Regions from separate parts of the Homo sapiens genome. Here region 2 is linked to region 1. The links come from fine-mapping of genetic effects on gene expression. Tissue or cell type: whole blood. Region 1 holds a variant in brackets; the other region holds the start of a gene. All regions are shown on one strand. Distances are from middle to middle.

Region 1 (8,103 bases):
CTTCCTCACTCAGTGACCCCTCCTCTCAAACTCCGACCTCGGTTTCGCCCTTGCAACTCCCAGCTTTCCTATATGTCCAAGGGCGGCGAGGGCTCAAAAGTCCTGGATAATCCGCAGATAGAACACACACACCCTTTTCCGAATTCTGCTGAGCATTTGCGTTGTGTCAGGAAGCAGGATTCAGATTGAACGGTGCTGACCTCCTGCCGCGGCCGGGGGCTGGGCTCAGCACTTTCACCTACCTCCTCTTCAGGTCACATGTGTTCTCCAGCCCCTGCCTAGCCTATCCCACAGATGGGAATGTGCGCTGCTTGGGGGCCTTGTTACCGCCCCCGGAGATGGCTGAACTGCTGCGGTAAAATAGTGCTGTTATTTCCATTTTAGAGATGGGGGCACTGAGGTCCAGGTTCTCCAGTTAGCAAGTGGCTGAACCCAGCTGGATTTGAACCAGGGTCTGACTAACTCCAAACCCCACAAGCTTAACCCCTGGGCTATGACAAGGAGTTGTGACTCCCTCCATTTCTGTAACTGACCTTCTCTCCCTGTGTCTGTGTGTCCTTTCTTGGCACTTCAACAAATGTTAACTGAGGTATGCAGGGCTTGCAAGGGACACGGAGATGAATAATGCATAGTGGCTGTCGTGTCCTGTGTCCTAGGTGTCTACCAACGCCGGCCCTGACTGGCCCTGCGGCGGTCCCACCTCACTGGACCACCTCATCTGTGTGTCTGATGTTCCACACCCTGTGTCTGCTGGCCTTGTCTATCTTGCTCCAGGTCTGAAGTTCCTAGAGCAGTGCCTTTGTCTCTGGCCTACCTGTTTCTGACTCTTCCTTTGGCCTTGCAGGGTGTTGGCCAGTGTGTGACAAAGGCAGCTGGTGACATTTTGCCAACCGCAACTCCCTGGTCACTATCTTCCCCACACCTTCACTCCTTCCAAGCTCCTTCTCTATGGCAGTCCAGTACCCCCAGAGGACAAGAGAGGGGATCTGGGGAACACTCTCTATTGGCCCTTGGCAGAGGGTGTGTGCAGCAGTAATAGGAGAGGTCTAGGGCTCTAAACGGGACACTATTGATTTGGCATCATGGGGCTGCCATGACCGACTGGAGAGGCCCTCATCTTGGAGCAGCTTCTCCTTGCAGACAAGTTAGGACTTGGGTTCAAAGATTTATTCATTGAATGGGAAATATAAGGTCAGATGCTCATAAAAGTAGTGGCTAAAGTCATTAGAGATTCTGCAGCTCCAAAGCCTGGGCCTGAAGTGATCCCAAATAGATGAGGCTTTGGCACCTTGCCCTAGCTGGCCCCCTATAGGACAGACAGACTTCGGCGTTGGGGAGGGTGAAAGAGACCCAGGTTCCTCCTCCTTTCTCTCCCTTCCCCCATTACCCATTAGATTCTGCCTGTAGTCATGAAGACTCTACTCAGTTTGAATCAAGTTTTAGGAGGGAGTTGGGTGGGATAATATAGGATGGTTTCTGGGGTGTGGAGAGCCCCAGTAGGTTGAGATGAAGGGGAGTTTGGGAAAAGCATGGGAGGGGGAGGTTAAGTAATGAGATGCAGAGGGCAAGATTAGTAGGGCCCATGGCTCTATGAGTTAGAGGGAAATAGAAGTTAGGTAGGGTTTCTCGAGCATGCCCCTCCCACCCCAGGCTACTTCAGCGGTCCCCTTCCCCTGTGAGGGTGAATTCCATTGGCCCTTAAAGTGTTGATCATCACTGGAAACCAAGCATTGCAGAGTCTCCCTGTTATTTGGGGGCTGGTCTTTTTCGTGGAGCCTCTCCAAATTGTGTTGAGTTTGGCGGGGGGTGGTCTCCCCAAACTCAAGTTGTCTTCCCGTGGGCTGCTGCTGCCACCTAGTGTCTAATCTTCGTTTCTGCTTCAGCAGTTGTCAGCGAGCAGGAGGGAAAGAAGGCTTGAGGCAGAGGACACAGGTTCTGGAAGAGCCTGCATCATCCCTCTCTGGGCTCAGCTCCCTCCAGCCGCTTTTGTTTCGGTGTAAGCAGAAGGTGGTGTAGCTAGACCCTGGAAAATAAAGATGAGAGTCTGGAATGGGGCCTTGGGTTTGAGAGGCCATGTGGAGCAGGAGCTAGACAGGCCTGGTCCTGATCTTGATTTTACTTGTGTGTCCTCAATCTGTGTGAGTCTCAGTTTTCCCATGTGTAAAATAGAAGCAGAGCTGTTGAGAAGATTAACTGAGCATATAGATGTAAAAGCACTGTGAAAACTGGCAAGGGCATGGTGAGAGAGATGATGAGTCACACTAATAATGACAATAACTGACAGGTCCCAGCAGCCTGGAGCCAGGCCCCCAGACCTCATGGAAAGGGCAGGATGAAGTGAGTCTTGGGTAGGGACTAGCACGGCCCTCCCTGAATATGGAAGTTCTGGGGGTGGCCCTACTCCTGGGGCTGCTCAGGAGAGGTGTGGACTGCTAGAGGGTGGTTCAGCCCAGTATGCAGAAGGGGAGACGGAGGCTTAGAGAGGTTGCGGGCCTATCCTAAGCTATTGAGCTGCAGATCCAGGAACAAGAGGCCCATTGGACTGGAGCCATTATGGCCCTGGTTTTCCCCTTCTTTGGATGGGAACAGCTCAAAGCTGGAGCCCAAGAGACCACGCAAGCAGGAAGCCTCCCTCATTGTGGTACAGTGGGGACTAAGGCCCCCAGGCTCTGTTAGCCCTCCTCCTGGGCCAGCCCCTTTCCCCTCCCCCGTGCAAGTCCTCCCACATTCCTCTAGGCCACAGGAAACCCCAGCTGCAGCCCAGACTTCAAACAGCTCCTCCCTCTGGGGCAGGGGGTGTGGGAGGAGAGGCCAGAGGCCAGAGGGCAAAGGTCAGCTTTGTTCCTGCCGGAGGTGGTGAGGGACCTGGGGGAGACAGAGGGGGAGCAGGGTCGGGCCCTTGACAGCCACACTGAGTGTGTGTGAATTCCTGTGGCCGTCAGGGTTGTGTGATTCCCGCTGTGCGCCTGTGTCTGGGGGGTAACCCTGTGTCCTCGGTTTGCTTTCGCTTGCAGGCCTGACTTCTGTGTCTGAGTGTGAAGCAGTGCATGTTTGTCTGTGGGTGCTCAGCCTGGGATCCCACTGACACGTCTGTAGGTGCCATTACTTGTATCGCTATGTCTGGTTCATAGGCGCGGTCAAAGCTGTGTGTCCTATGAGTGTGACCTGGTATGGTTCTTTGTGTCCCAGAGGGGTGTCCGTCTCCTGCCTCTTCGCCTCCTATCTTTCCTCTCCATTGTCACCAAAGAGTTCCTTCTGAAAGTGAATCTGGCTGGGCGCAGTGGCTCATGCCTGTAATCCCAGCAGTTTGGGAGGCCGAGGCGGGCGGATCACTTGAGGTCAGGAGTTCGAGATAACCCTGGCCAATATGGCAAAACCCCGTGTCTACTAAAAATACAAAAATAAGCCAGGCGTGGTGGCTCCCGCCTGTAGTCCCAGCTACTTGGGAGGCTGAGGCAGGAGAATCACTTGAACC[C/T]GGGAGGCAGAGGTTGCAGTGAGCTGAGATGGCACCACTGCACTCCAGCCTGGGCAACAGTGAGACTCCGTCTAAAAAAAAAAAAAAAAGTGAATCTGACCTGCTCAAAACCCTTCAGTGGCTCCCCATTGTCCAAGGCTTAGGATCCCAGCTTGAGTGCATGGTAGACAAGACCCATGCCTGCCTTTGCCATCTTCATCTTTAGCCACTAACCCCTCTGAAATTTCACATTCCTAGCACACCTACCTAATTGTAACTCCCTGAGCAGTCTCATTTCTTGCCTTTGAGCTCACTTAATTCTGTCCAGTCTGGAATGTCCTTCTGTTGCTTCTTTCTTTACCAAGCAAACTCTTACTCTTGTTTCTGATGAATCAACACCTCCTCTGAGAAGCCTCCCAGACTTCCCCCTGCCCAGTTGAGTTAGGACTCTCCCCTGTTCTCCCACATAGCTTTATTGTCATTTTCTGCCCGCATCTGTCCTGTTAGCACCCATCACCATTAAACTGTGACCTCTTTGAGAGCAGGAACTGTGCCATATCTCCTGTCCTGTGGTGGGAAGTTTCTGAAGAGACCTGGTTCTCCCATCCCGGGAGGGGGGAAAGTTTCTTGCAGTTTTGGATGTAGTACTCAGAGTCACCACTAGAGAGAGTGTGAACATCACTGCAGGACCATCCAGGCTCGTGTGTGTGTGTGTGTGTGTGTGTGTGTGTGTGTGTGTGTGTCTTCGATACTGTACCTGGGGTGTGTGTGTGTGTGTGTGTGTGTGTCTTCAATACTGTACCTGGGGTATGTGTGTGTGTGTGTGTCTTCGATACTGTACCTGGGGTGTGTGTGTGTGTGTGTGTGTGTGTGTGTGTGTGTGTGTGTCTTCGATACTGTACCTGGTGGAGTGGAGAGAGGATCCACTCAGCTCAGTCCCGGAGCAGTGGGATCCAGAGTAGACTCCATTCCCCACAATAAGTCCTGGGTCCCCCAGATTTCTTCTTTCTTTTCCCCACAACTCAGAGCCCATACCCCTTGGCTTTCCCCCTCCTACTTCTTGCCTCTGACTCTCCATCCCTCGTCTTCCATGCCTCATCTGCACCCTCAGCCCTCCCATGCCTAATTATTGGCACTTGCCTGGCCTGAATGGGCCTTACTCTACCATACGTCTGGGCCTTTGCACATGCTGTTCCCTCTGCTGGAGATGACCTCACCCTCTGGCTGCTTCATCAGGCAGACTTTTATTTCACAGACTCCAAGAAATCCCCCAGACTTGGCTCCCAGACTGACCTTGCCCCTAAGTGTTGTCATTGTTTACTGTTTTGCCTCCTAGACAGGACCAGCCTACAGGAGACATCAGTAGATGTGTGTGAAATTAATAAATGACTTAGTTCTTTTACGAGTACAATCCTCAGCATGTAGGGAGCTACCCCTGAGCCCTACGTGCACCAGGCCCTTCCTGGACCTGACTCTGGGTCAATATGACACTTTCCCATGCTGCTCCTTCAAATAAAGAAATGTGACCCGGGGAACACATGAGACTTTGAGTTCAAATCCTGGCTGTACCATCCACCTGTATGACCTTGAGCCAGTGTTGTAGCCTCTCAGAGTCTTGTTTCCTCTTTTGTAAAATGGGGATAATCACACATCTGCGCTGCCTTGTGGTGAAGATCAAATTAGATGATGCATGCAAAATACCCGCATTAGTCAATTAGGTGTCCTCCTCCCCCACCATGAACTTGGAAATAAAATTGCCCTCTGAGTCTTAAACCAGTAAAATCCACGCATCACGGAGGAGAAGAGCCAGGTGGGGGAGTGAATGAGGCGAGAGATGGTTTTGTAAACGACTGAAGAGTTTTGTGAACGGTGCAAACCGCAATCAAGGTGACCCGCCTGTAATCTCAGGGAGGCAGGGCGAGGATGTGATTGAAATTGAGAAAGCAGAAGCCTAATCAATTGCATTGTGCTCTATCTGAAGGGAACAGAAGGCTGCACAGAAAACGGGGTGCAAGGGAGAATTCATCTAGCTGTTTCAGAGGGAGAGACAAGGAAGGCACCAGTAGACACAGGGATTCCAGGCTCAGGAGGCTCTGGTCTCTACTGAGGAGCAGCGAGGGCCCTGGTGAACTCCAGGTGGTTCACTGCCCTGCTGGGCTTTCATTGAAACCAAACGGGCATCCTGGTACCAGACAGAGCCCTGTAGGGCAGACAAGAATATTCTGGTCCCAGAAAAAGGCTGTGGAGACTGAGAGCACTGATTTTGGAGTCAGAAGACTTGGTGTAAGCCCCTGCTCTGCCACTTCTGTCCTGCTGATTCACTTCACTGTGCCTCAGTTTCCTCATTAGCAACATGAAGATACAACAAACTCCTCCTCATAGGGATCTGCGAGGATAAAATCGCAGCATGCATGCACTTAGCAGGATGCCTGGCACACAGTCAACAATTTGCAAATGGTAGTGACAGAGAGAGCTCACATGTATTGATCATTTGATTACTATTTCACAGATGAGGAAATTGAGGCTTCGAGAGGTGAAAAACTTGCACTAAACCACACAGCTAGTGAGTGGTGGAGGCAGGATTCACACCAGGCACTACAGCTCCAGAGCCGTGCTCTTCTCTGCTTATTTCATGGCAGGCAGAATCACTGGCCTCTGGCTTATACATCAGGCTCTTGTGAGTTTGGTCAGCCAGAAACTGTGGCCCTTGGGAAGCCTTGGCCCCTGAGACTTTTTCTGTGGAGCTAAGGCTCCCACCCCTATGACAACCCCTCTGAGCAGCCATTTGGCTTCTCTCCATCTTACTGCTCTCATTCAGCAACCCCCAGCACAGGGCAGGACACAGGGAATTCTCAATCTGCATTGATTGCCTTATCTTTCTTTCCTTTAGGTCACCCAGCATAGGAGGATTTCCAGGGAATCTTTCTACCAATAACTAGAGGAGGAAGGATCACACACACACACACACACACACACACACGCACACACACACACTCCACAGAGGCTCTCTTCCCAAAGCCTAGAGGCAATGAAGTCTAGTGAAAAGACCATGAGCTTTGGTGTAAGATCTAGGTTCAAATCCTAGCTCTGTCACATACACTGCATGCTCTTGGTACATCATGTAACCCCTGAGCCTCAGTTTTCTCACCTACAAATGGGGCTAATCACAGAACCAGGCTCAGTACTGGATTAAATTGAAAAGATGGCTGTAAATACATCTGACATTCAGAAGACACTTAATAAGTGAGTTATTATTATTATAATTTTCCTCCTCTGCTTGACTATGAACTCCTCCTCCAGGGCAGGGACAGGTCTTATTCATGTTTGTGTTCCCAGGGTCCTCCTTAGCAAAGAGTCAATGCTTTGCAGAGTCAATGCTCAGTAATGATTTGCCAATTGCTGCAGTGATTCCCAGCTCCCAGATTCCTTCTCTGTCCATTCCCTTAGTAAGTCAGATGGTCAACAAACATTTTCTGATGGGAGAGGTGGGAATCTTTATTCCCTGCTCCCCTTGTTTCCACACGGAGGCATGTCAGCTTCCAGAGTTTCTCTCAGGGGAACGAGGGAGTGGGAAGATTCATCATCGCGCAGGTGCACTGCAGATTGTTCAGCATCCCTGAACCCTACCTGTAGGATCCAAACAAATCAAACTGCCTTCAAACCTCTCCAAAAGCTCCCCTGGGGGCAAAACTCCCCTAATGAGATCCAGTGAGTTAGACTAACCCTCAGGCCTCTTCTCTCTCCTCCCCTCTCTTCTGTCCTCTTTTGGAGAGTCTGACAGCTCCAGAGGGTCCACTGTGGTCTTCCTCCCTGCCCTGGCAAAGGAGGCCTAAGGTTGTCCCATTGCGCCTGTGATGAATGGCAAATCTGATGAACTCAGATAAAGAATTAGCAAACCTATTATACACAGATTGAAGGCCATATCAGCAACGAAGGGGACATTTTAATGTATCTTCAGCTGCTTGTCTTCTAAACTCACGTGCAGATGAGCAGTGGGACTCTGGGTGTTCTAAAACTCCACACCTTGGATGCCCCGTGCTTGGTAGGCATTAGGGCCCTCTCCAGCTTCCCCTGCTGCTGCCTGTAGCCATATCTGTCCGTTCACCCCCTATTGACCACCCCCGCTCCCAAAGGAAGGTTCAAGGGTATTTCATGGTTTGAGGATTCATATTGTCATTTTACTTATTTACAGAATCAATAAACCAACACATACACACTATTCAGAGAGGTGGGAAGTGCTCTGCAACCTTCTCCCTCAAACCTGGGCCCAGACCCCAGTCCTGGACCACTGCATCCACCCAGCAGGAAAGGGGTCCAGCCAAGACTTTTCCTGACTTTGTAACTTACAGACACAAGAGAATAGAGGGTAGAAGGGAAATTCTTGGCACCTGGACTAGAGTGAGATAAAAGGAGAGTAGGAAAGCAGTGATAGGAGAGAAGTGAGGGAGGTACATACAGTTTTATAAATAACTAGACAAGGTCTGAGCACTTTGGGTGGGGATGGAGTGAGAAAGGCTACAGGCATGTAGGGGCCTAAGTGGAAAAGGAAGAAATAGTGCTTGGGGCCAGAGCGGATGAGAGATCAGCTCTGGGCCTCCTTTTGCCCCATCTGTAAAACAAGTAGGTTGCCCTAGGTGGTGTCAGAGCAG
Region 2 (8,103 bases), 240 kb before region 1:
GCCAGGGAGAGGAAACTGGCCTGGATATAGCTAGAACGTTGGCATGGGGTGCCACGGGCACTGGTCTAAAAGCAGCCAGGTCATTGGCTCAGGGTTCAGTCTAGCATGCCAATGGACATAGGTGCAGGAGCTGACAGCCCAGGTCAGGCCAAGAATGCAGAGGGGGCCACCTACCATATGGGGGCATTGAGCTTATACAGCTGCTCTGCAGCCAGCACCACCTGGGTGGGGTCATTGGCGAGGATCTGGGCTCCCAGGTAGAAACCCACATCCCAGTAATACTGCATCTTCTCCACGCAGCCTTTGCGGGCCAGCAGGCAGCCCAGCTTCATGCCTGGGGGAGAGAGGCATGGGCTCCAGTGAGTGTGGGTGCAGGGGTGAGTGAGGCCCACCATTTCTGTGGGCCCGAGTGTGGACATGAACATAGATATGAGTATGGCATTGAGTATGGCAAGATCTCGGGTGGGAACAGGAGCTCAGGCACAGGTATATGTGGAATTCAGGATGTAATGGACACGCAGATGTGAGTTTGGGAACATTTGTGGGTTTGAGGGCTCCTGAGGGCCCAGAACAGGTATGAGGACCCAGGTGTGGGTATGGGCAGGACAGTCCAAAATGGATGAGCTCATCCTAGCTCTTGCCCAGTGTGCTCTCTCCCTGCCCTCTTCCCAGGCCCCTCGGAACCCCTGTGGGTGACGAGACAAGAGCCAGGATCTGTGCTCACCTATTAGCCGGAGCTCTTTGGAATCCTCAAAGTGCTGCCCGGCAGCAATGAGGAGCACAGCTGCATTGATGCCTGAGTGAAGGCTGGGCTCTACGTCAAAAGCCTTGCGATACCTGGGGTGGGGGTAGGGGGCACAGGGCTGGACTGATGCCCACAGCACCACCCCTCATCTCACAGCTTAGCCCACCGGCCACTCACTGTGCTCTTTACCAGTGATAGGCCTGCTCCCGGTGCCCAGCATCCTGGAAACCCGAGCTGAAGAACATGTCCTTGTAGATACGGCCACACATGCAGTACAGATCGGGCGCCACAGAGCCCTCAAGCTGTACCAGCGGCAGCAGCACAGACAGGGCCTTCGCCCGGTCCCCAGGCCTGTTCCTCCTAGGGAAAAGATGGGCTCAGGCCCTCCCTGATGGCCCTGGCCTACTCTGTCCAGGGACCTCTAGACACTGAACCAGCAGGGACCCTTCCAGGGGCCTGACAATAATGACCTCAAAATGATAATGACCCTGGCCAGCACTGACCTCTCTAGTGACCTCAGATGGAAGTGATTCCTAGATGCGATGACTCTTAGGAGCAGTGATCTTGGACAGCGGTGACCATACCACAGGCAGCACCACCTCCCCCACCCCGACCCAGGCAGCAGTAACTCAGAACAACAGGGACCTATTGACATCAGTGACCCCGGTCAGCAAATTCCCCGAACAGCAGTGATCCCAGACAGCAATGGCTTTGCACGCAGAGACCTAGGTTTCGGAAACCTTTATGTGGCTATGACCTAACCCTTGCTCTGCCACTCACCGGTTGAGGGCAAAAGTGTAGTGGAAGCAGACATTATGCTGCTCGGCCACATCACAGGTGGGCAAGGCCTGCAGCGTCTCCACCAGCTCAATGATGGCCGAGTAGTCCTGCATCAGGGAACGGCAAGCACTGGCATCATGGGCCTCCAGGCCCCAAGGAACCTTGAGCCAGGGTCCTGTCCCACTCCTGACATCCCACCCAGCCACCATCTTCTGCACGCCTCCCTCAGGCCCAGCGGACACACCTCACAGGGAGAACCTACTGTATGCCCCATGCTGGGCGTTCCCAACCCCACAACTGCCCCAGGAGGCAGCGACATGCTCATCCTCTCTAACAAATAAGGAGGCCAACACTCAGAGACATTGGATAATTTGCCCAAAGCCACCAGTGAGCAAGTGGCCCAGCCAGGAACTGAACTTGGGTTTGTCTGACCTCAAATGCCAGCTGCCCTACTGCCTCTCTGAACACCACGCACCTGCACATCGCGGTAGGAGAGCAGCAAGTTCATGATGATGTCGGGGCTCAGCAGCTCCACGCTGTCCAGTCTCCGCTGCAGGCGAGCCAGCTCCTGCCGCAGCTGTGGCCCACTGAACCGCTCCCGCGCCTGCCGGATGTCCCGCCGAATGGTCTCCCGGAAATAGCCACTGATGCCCAGGGTAGGGGAGGCAGGGAGAGAGAATGGTGGGGCCTGTACCTCAGCCCCAGCCCACCATACCCTCACCAGCCCCCTCCTGGAGCACCCTCCCTGGGGGCCTTCATTACCAAGAGTCTGTGGGTGTGGCCTCCAGCAGGCGGGCAAGCCGGCCCACCAGGGGAGTGAGCAGGGCCTCGGTCCCCACTCCAGCCTGTACCAGCCCATCAGCCAGGCCCCGCAGAAGGCCTGCATCACCACACAGCACCCGACCAGTGGCCGTCACCACATAGGGGATCAGTGTGTAGCTGCCAACGCAATCCTGGTGGGAGGGAGGCAGGAATCAGTGAGGTCAGAGGTCAGCACAGGGCTAGACAAGGGGAGTGAGAGCATCAAAGGTCAGCATCAGTGGGAATTGGAATCGCAGGAAAGGGGCACCCGTCATGAGAGGAGGCAACAGGAAACAGAGGAATACTTGGGATGTCAGTGGGGGGTTAGGTGACTGAGGAGGCCAGGGGGATTAGTGGAGGTCAGAGGTCATAGCGGAAGTCAAAGGGCACTTTTGAGTGAGAGGTGGATTCTGCTCACCGAGTTCTTCTGGAAAACATCCTCCTGCAGGAGGCAGACAGTCAGATACTGGTGTTCTGTGTAGGCCTTACCCCAGCCCTGTGCCTGCCTCCACCAGCCCCAGGCCACCTACCCGCAGGGCCTGCAGGTCAGGGAGGTCGGCCTGGGAGCAGAGGAGCACATTGTTGGTCATGCTGAAGCTCTCACGCACACCAAGGTGGTAGAACAGGGAGGGCTGTACCAGCGAGCTGCTCACCTCCAGCACCACCACATCTGCAGGCACAGAGGGGGTGGCGCTGATCCCTGAAGCCCAGCTTGATGGGGAAGGAGCCGGGGTCCATCCTGGCTTGACCTGCCTTGCTGTGGGACTCCAGTAGGGTCTGGTTCTGCTTTGGGCTTCAGTCGGCCCTTTTTAGGGTTCCCCTGGCACTTTCACAGAACTGATCTCTGTAGTGTTGCAGGAGAGGAGTTGGGCTCACTGGGTTGGGACCCTCAGGCCACGGTTCAGAGCCTGTGAGCACCTGGCATGGGGGAAGGGAGGCTGTGGACCAGTTGAGTCTGTTACGGGCCATTTAGGAGGTGGGAGTTGCGCAAACATAGAAGTCCCCTCCCTTTGGTCTTCAGCACAGGCTCTTGAAAGGGGCTACCATCAGTGTGCATAGACAACGCTGTGCCTAAATGTATGTATGTGTATATCTGTGACATGTATAGCTTACTATGTCTGACTGTATCTGTGTGTGTGACAGCGTCTGCTAGGGCCTGCATGAGTCAACATGTATGCGATTTGTGTCTGTCGATAATTGTATCTTTGTGTCCGAGTGGTCGGGTCAGCCTTCATTTTAGGCTACGATTTCATGGACATCCAGGAAGCACAGCTACTGGACTCTAGCATAAGCAAGTAAGTATGGGGGCCGAGCATCCGGGCTGGCTGGAGGGAGGAGTGACTCGCGGGGGAATAGCCTCCTTCTGGCCCCGCCCCTGAGCCATCCTTTCCCGCCCACTTCCCCGCCCCTTCCCCGCCCATTCTTTCTGGGCCGCTGAGGCCACTTAACCTAAGCTCCCTCACCCAGTATCCAGTCCCGTCGGGCCCCTTCGCTTCTCTTTTTGCCTCTCCTAGCCCGATCCTTGGAAATAGTATGCTAGGACTCCTGAACTCCAGCCTCCCGGCCCCTTTCCCTAAGTCCAAGCTCCTCTCCCAGTAATTGTCCTCAAGAGATCCGCGTGACATTCTCCTGAGGGTGAGGCTGAGTTCTCCAACCCCACCCCTGAGACACCACAGCCCCGCGCCGCTCCCCGCCCCGCCCCAGAGTTCCAAAGCCCCTCCCCATCCTTGCCCCGCTGGCTGGGCACCGCTCCGACTGAAGGGTGCCTAAGCCCCAACCTCGAGCCCTAGAGCCGCGCCCGGATCCCTGTCTCGTCCCGAGCCCGGCCGCGCCCCAGATCCCCTAAATCCCACTTTTTTCACGGCCCTGTCCCAAGCCCTTCAGCTTTAGCTCACTTTAAGTCCCCTAGACCCGGTACCCCTCTCGGCCCCTCCCTTGAGCCTTCGAGCCCGGCTTGGTCCCCTCCCAGGACCCTGAGTCCCGCCCGGATCCGGCCCCGCCCCCAGCGCTCTCACCCGCGTTGTAGAAGGCATCCAGAGCCGCGGTGTCGCCTAGCTCCAGCGTCCCGAAGGGCAGGCTGCGCAGCTGCGGGGGCGGCCGCGGCCGGGGGACCTGCGCGCAAGCCTCGCGCAGGCAGCGCAGGGGCAGCGGCTCCGCCTCGGTTCCCTCCCGAGGCTCGAGCCCGGGCTGCGGCTCCCGGGTCAGCACGTAGACCACGCTGAGCGGCCGGCTCCGCGCGCAGCCCCGGCCCGGGGGCGCCGCGAGCTGCCGGCCCCGGCTCAGCGCCACGGCCAGCGGGTCCTGCCAGCAGCTGCCGGCGCGCTCCGCCCCGGACCGGGGACACGGCCCCGCCATGCGGGGGCGCTCAGGCGCGGGGCGCCGCGCACTGGGAACCGGGGGCGGGGCAGGAGCCTGGGCCGGCAGATCAGGAATCTTGGGATCTGGAATCCGTTCGGAATCGGAGAATCTCCCACGGGATCTAGGGATCCGGAATACGGCCTGACGTCCCGTTCCAGGAATCTAAAGTCCAGGGAGAAATCCTAGCTCGGACTTGCAAGGTCCTGAGGTTCTGAAATCCGGGATTGGGTCCCAGGAATCTGGGGCATCCGGTGATCGGCAGCTCAGAGCCACTTGGGGGATCCTGGGAATCGGCTCGGAGGTGCCCGCCACCTGGACTTCTCAAGGGAGCGCCCGCCAACGCTGCCCTGCCTTCACTTGTAGGCTAAGCCCAGCCCTTTCCCGGCCGACCCAGAAAGCTCCACCCTCGGCCCTGGGGCAGAGCCGCTCCCTAGCGGCTTGAGACTCAGCCTCTCCCCTCCCTTCTCTCCCGCCAGAACTTTGGAGACTGGCGGCTTCCGGAACAGCCTGTGCCCCTGTGCACGCCAAAGACTGTGGACTGCTCACAGCAAGTGCACATAAAATGTGTGAGGAGGCCAGGGCTAGGGAAAAGGTTCGATATGCAGGCCCTGCTCTGCAGGTATCTGTTGAATGAATGGCTCTCTAGAGACATCAGGGTGCGCAGAGCATGATGAACAATGGGTGTCCTCCCGGGCCCAGTGAGCGCAGGCAGGGAGGGACTGGGATGGGGGAAACCTACACCCTAGGCCGCTTGCCCGAAAGCCTTCAGTCCTGGAGTGGGACTTGGCATCTGAGCCTTAACTGTCACTAGGGGGCTGCTTTCCCCAGGACCCAACCTGCTGTGGACCCCCGCTGACCTTTGACTTCTAGGCAGAACGTGGCCATGGGACCTGAGAAGCACTTCCTACTCTAAACAACTCTAAACATTTCTTTAGCCACCCCTTGAAGGAGTCAACCCCAGCCCTTTGCACTACAGCAGCTTCTCAGCTTCAAATCCCCAAGAGTCCCCAACTTTCTTGTGTGAATTAATGAGTGAGGCAGCAACCTGGTAGAAGCCTCAGTGGACCCTGAAACCAAGAACTGGGGACTTAAGTTGAATAACTTGTCCAGGATCACTCAGCACATGACAGCAGGGTGCAAACCCAGGACCGCCTGTCAGACTCTTAACTATTTAATTCTGCCACTTACTAGAATGTGGCTTTGGGCAAATAAACTGCTTAAATGCTACTCAATGGCTGTTTCATTGCCCTGTTGCCTTGTGGAAGAAAAAGGTACCTTCCTTGGTTTGACCTTGGATTCGAACTGACACCCAATGAGATAGGCAGGAAGTGGTAGAGTTTGAGAACTTGGCCTGCAACAGAGGCTGGAGTGGAAAACAGACAACTTACAAAGGACAGGCATGGGCAACCGACAGGCTGAGAAAGCTGTGCAATTCCCAGCCAGGGCGGTGGCTCATGCCTGTAATCCCACTTTGGGAGGCCAAGATGAGTGGATCACGAGGTCAGGAGTTCGAGACCAGCCTGGCCAACATGGTGAAACCCCGTCTCTACTAAAAATACAAAAAAAAGTAGCTGGGTGTGGTGGCACCTGCCTGTGATCCCAGCTACTTGGGAGCTGAGGCAGGAGAATCACTTGAACCTGGGAGATGGAGGTTGCGGTGAGTGGAGATCGTGCCATTGCACTCCAGCCTGGGCGGGGCGACAGAGCAAGACTCCATCTCAAAAAAAAAAAAAGCTATGCAATTGTGCAATTCCTGCCACAAAGCCATCCACTTGCAGGACCCAGAGGGCCTCGGGAAATTGTCAATGGATGCTTGGATCTCCTCTAATCCTTCCACTGTATGCCCCTCTGGCTCATTGCACTCCAGCCTGGGCAGGGCGACAGAGCAAGACTCCATCTCAAAAAAAAAAAAAAAAAAAAAGCGGCCGGGCGCAGTGGCTCACACCTGTAATCCCAGCACTTTGGGAGGCCGAGGAGGGCAGATCATGAGGTCAGGAGATTGAGACCATCCTGGCTAACATGATGAAACCCCGTCTCTACTAAAAATACAAAAAATTCGCCGGGCGTGGTAACGGGTGCCTGTAGTTCCAGCTACTCGGGAGGCTGAGGCAGGAGAATGGCGTGAACCTGGGAGGCAGAGCTTGCAGTGAGCCAGGATGGTGCCACTGCACTCCAGCCTGGGCGACAGAGCGAGACTGCGTCTCAAAAACAAACAAACAAACAAACAAACAAAAAAGCTGTGCAATTGTGCAATTCCTGCCACAAAGCCATCCACTTGCAGGACCCAGAGAGCCTCAGGAAATTGTCAATGGATGCTTGAATCTCCTCCAGTCCTTCCACTATATGCCCCTCTGGCCTTGTCTTGCACACCTCCAGAGACAGAAGCCTCACTACTTTAGAGGCTGTCCTTTCCATCTTCCTGACTGGAAGGAAATTCTTCCCTGAATGGAGCTGAAACTTGTGTCCCTGCTCTGCCCTCTAGGGTTTTTTCCCAGTAACTGGAAGAGTCTTGAAAGGGCTAAAATGATTTTATTTTTAAATGTGGACAGGCAAGCAGAGGTGGTTGGCAAAGGCAAGGTGGCTGACGATCCGGAAGCTGTACAGGAGAGATAAGGGCACTGGCTGCCAGAGTGCCCTATCGAAGCATCATCCGAACCCTGCGGTAGGGGTGGCCCACACCACGGCCTGAGGCCCAGTCAATGCCATATTTGTGGGCGGCAGCCTCAGACACTGCATAGCGACCATTGAGATTTGATCGGTAACAGGATGCATACCACCAGGCACCGTGGACAATCACTGCACAGTTGCTGTTGCTTGAATCGTGGTCAGCGTCATAGGTGGTAAAGGGCCTCCCACTGTGGAGGCTCAGGGAATCCCCTAGCAGGGAAGGGATGGAAAGCACCTTGGTGCCCAGCACCACGCCTGGCACCTTTGGAGATATAATGCCATGGGAGTCTCAGAGCAACTAAGAGTTGAATTTTATCAGGCCCCACGAGCAACACCAAGGGGCCAGGTTGTTTGCGCAGGGTTACTCGGCTGGTTGAAGCAGCGGCAGGACTTGAACTCGGGACTGTCTGGCTCCAAAGCTCCCAGCTTTTCCCCCTGTCTTACCCCCTCCAGAATCCCCGGCCCCCCTCTAGCTCCTTTGTCTTCTCTCAGCTCCCATCCAGTCTGAGCAACTCTGCTAGGAAAAGCTGGGAGGAACCTCTTAGGTGCCTGGCCAGGAAAGGTGGTTCCCTGAGGCACTCCCTCATAACCACTTCCCTCTTTTAAATCTCTCCCCAATAGTCACTGTTTCTCTGAAAGAAGACTTCCGTGGTTCCTCTTCCAAAGCAGAGAACACTAACACTCAACAGAGCCTCAGGCGGCACCCAAAACTTCCTCCTTGCCTCCCTGCGCTCCCCCCGCCTTTTTTTTTT

The links. PIP is the estimated chance that this variant, and not a neighbour inherited with it, causes the effect.
Region 2: it holds the start of MAP3K6, and the variant in region 1 is fine-mapped to the expression of MAP3K6 in whole blood (INTERVAL, PIP above 0.99).

Annotation. Positions count from the first base shown.
Region 1 is chr1:27,604,687-27,612,789 of GRCh38, forward strand. It overlaps FGR (FGR proto-oncogene, Src family tyrosine kinase), which reads right to left. Exons shown (of 13, transcript NM_005248.3): 13 at 7,378-8,103. Among named protein-coding and RNA genes, the nearest start is that of AHDC1, 4.6 kb to the left of the region's middle. RefSeq lists enhancers at 1,732-2,026, 1,918-2,766. The variant C/T (reference allele first, on the strand shown) is at 3,476.
Region 2 is chr1:27,361,917-27,370,019 of GRCh38, forward strand. MAP3K6 (mitogen-activated protein kinase kinase kinase 6) reads right to left here and starts at 5,045. Exons shown (of 29, transcript NM_004672.5): 1 at 4,342-5,045; 2 at 2,857-2,996; 3 at 2,745-2,768; 4 at 2,288-2,478; 5 at 2,001-2,169; 6 at 1,526-1,632; 7 at 935-1,105; 8 at 725-837; 9 at 175-334. The coding sequence starts at 4,681. FCN3 (ficolin 3) reads right to left here. Exons shown (of 8, transcript NM_003665.4): 8 at 7,194-7,561. The coding sequence ends at 7,320. RefSeq lists silencers at 3,634-3,703, 4,294-4,343, 4,414-4,633, 4,664-4,773 and enhancers at 4,026-4,969, 4,970-5,911.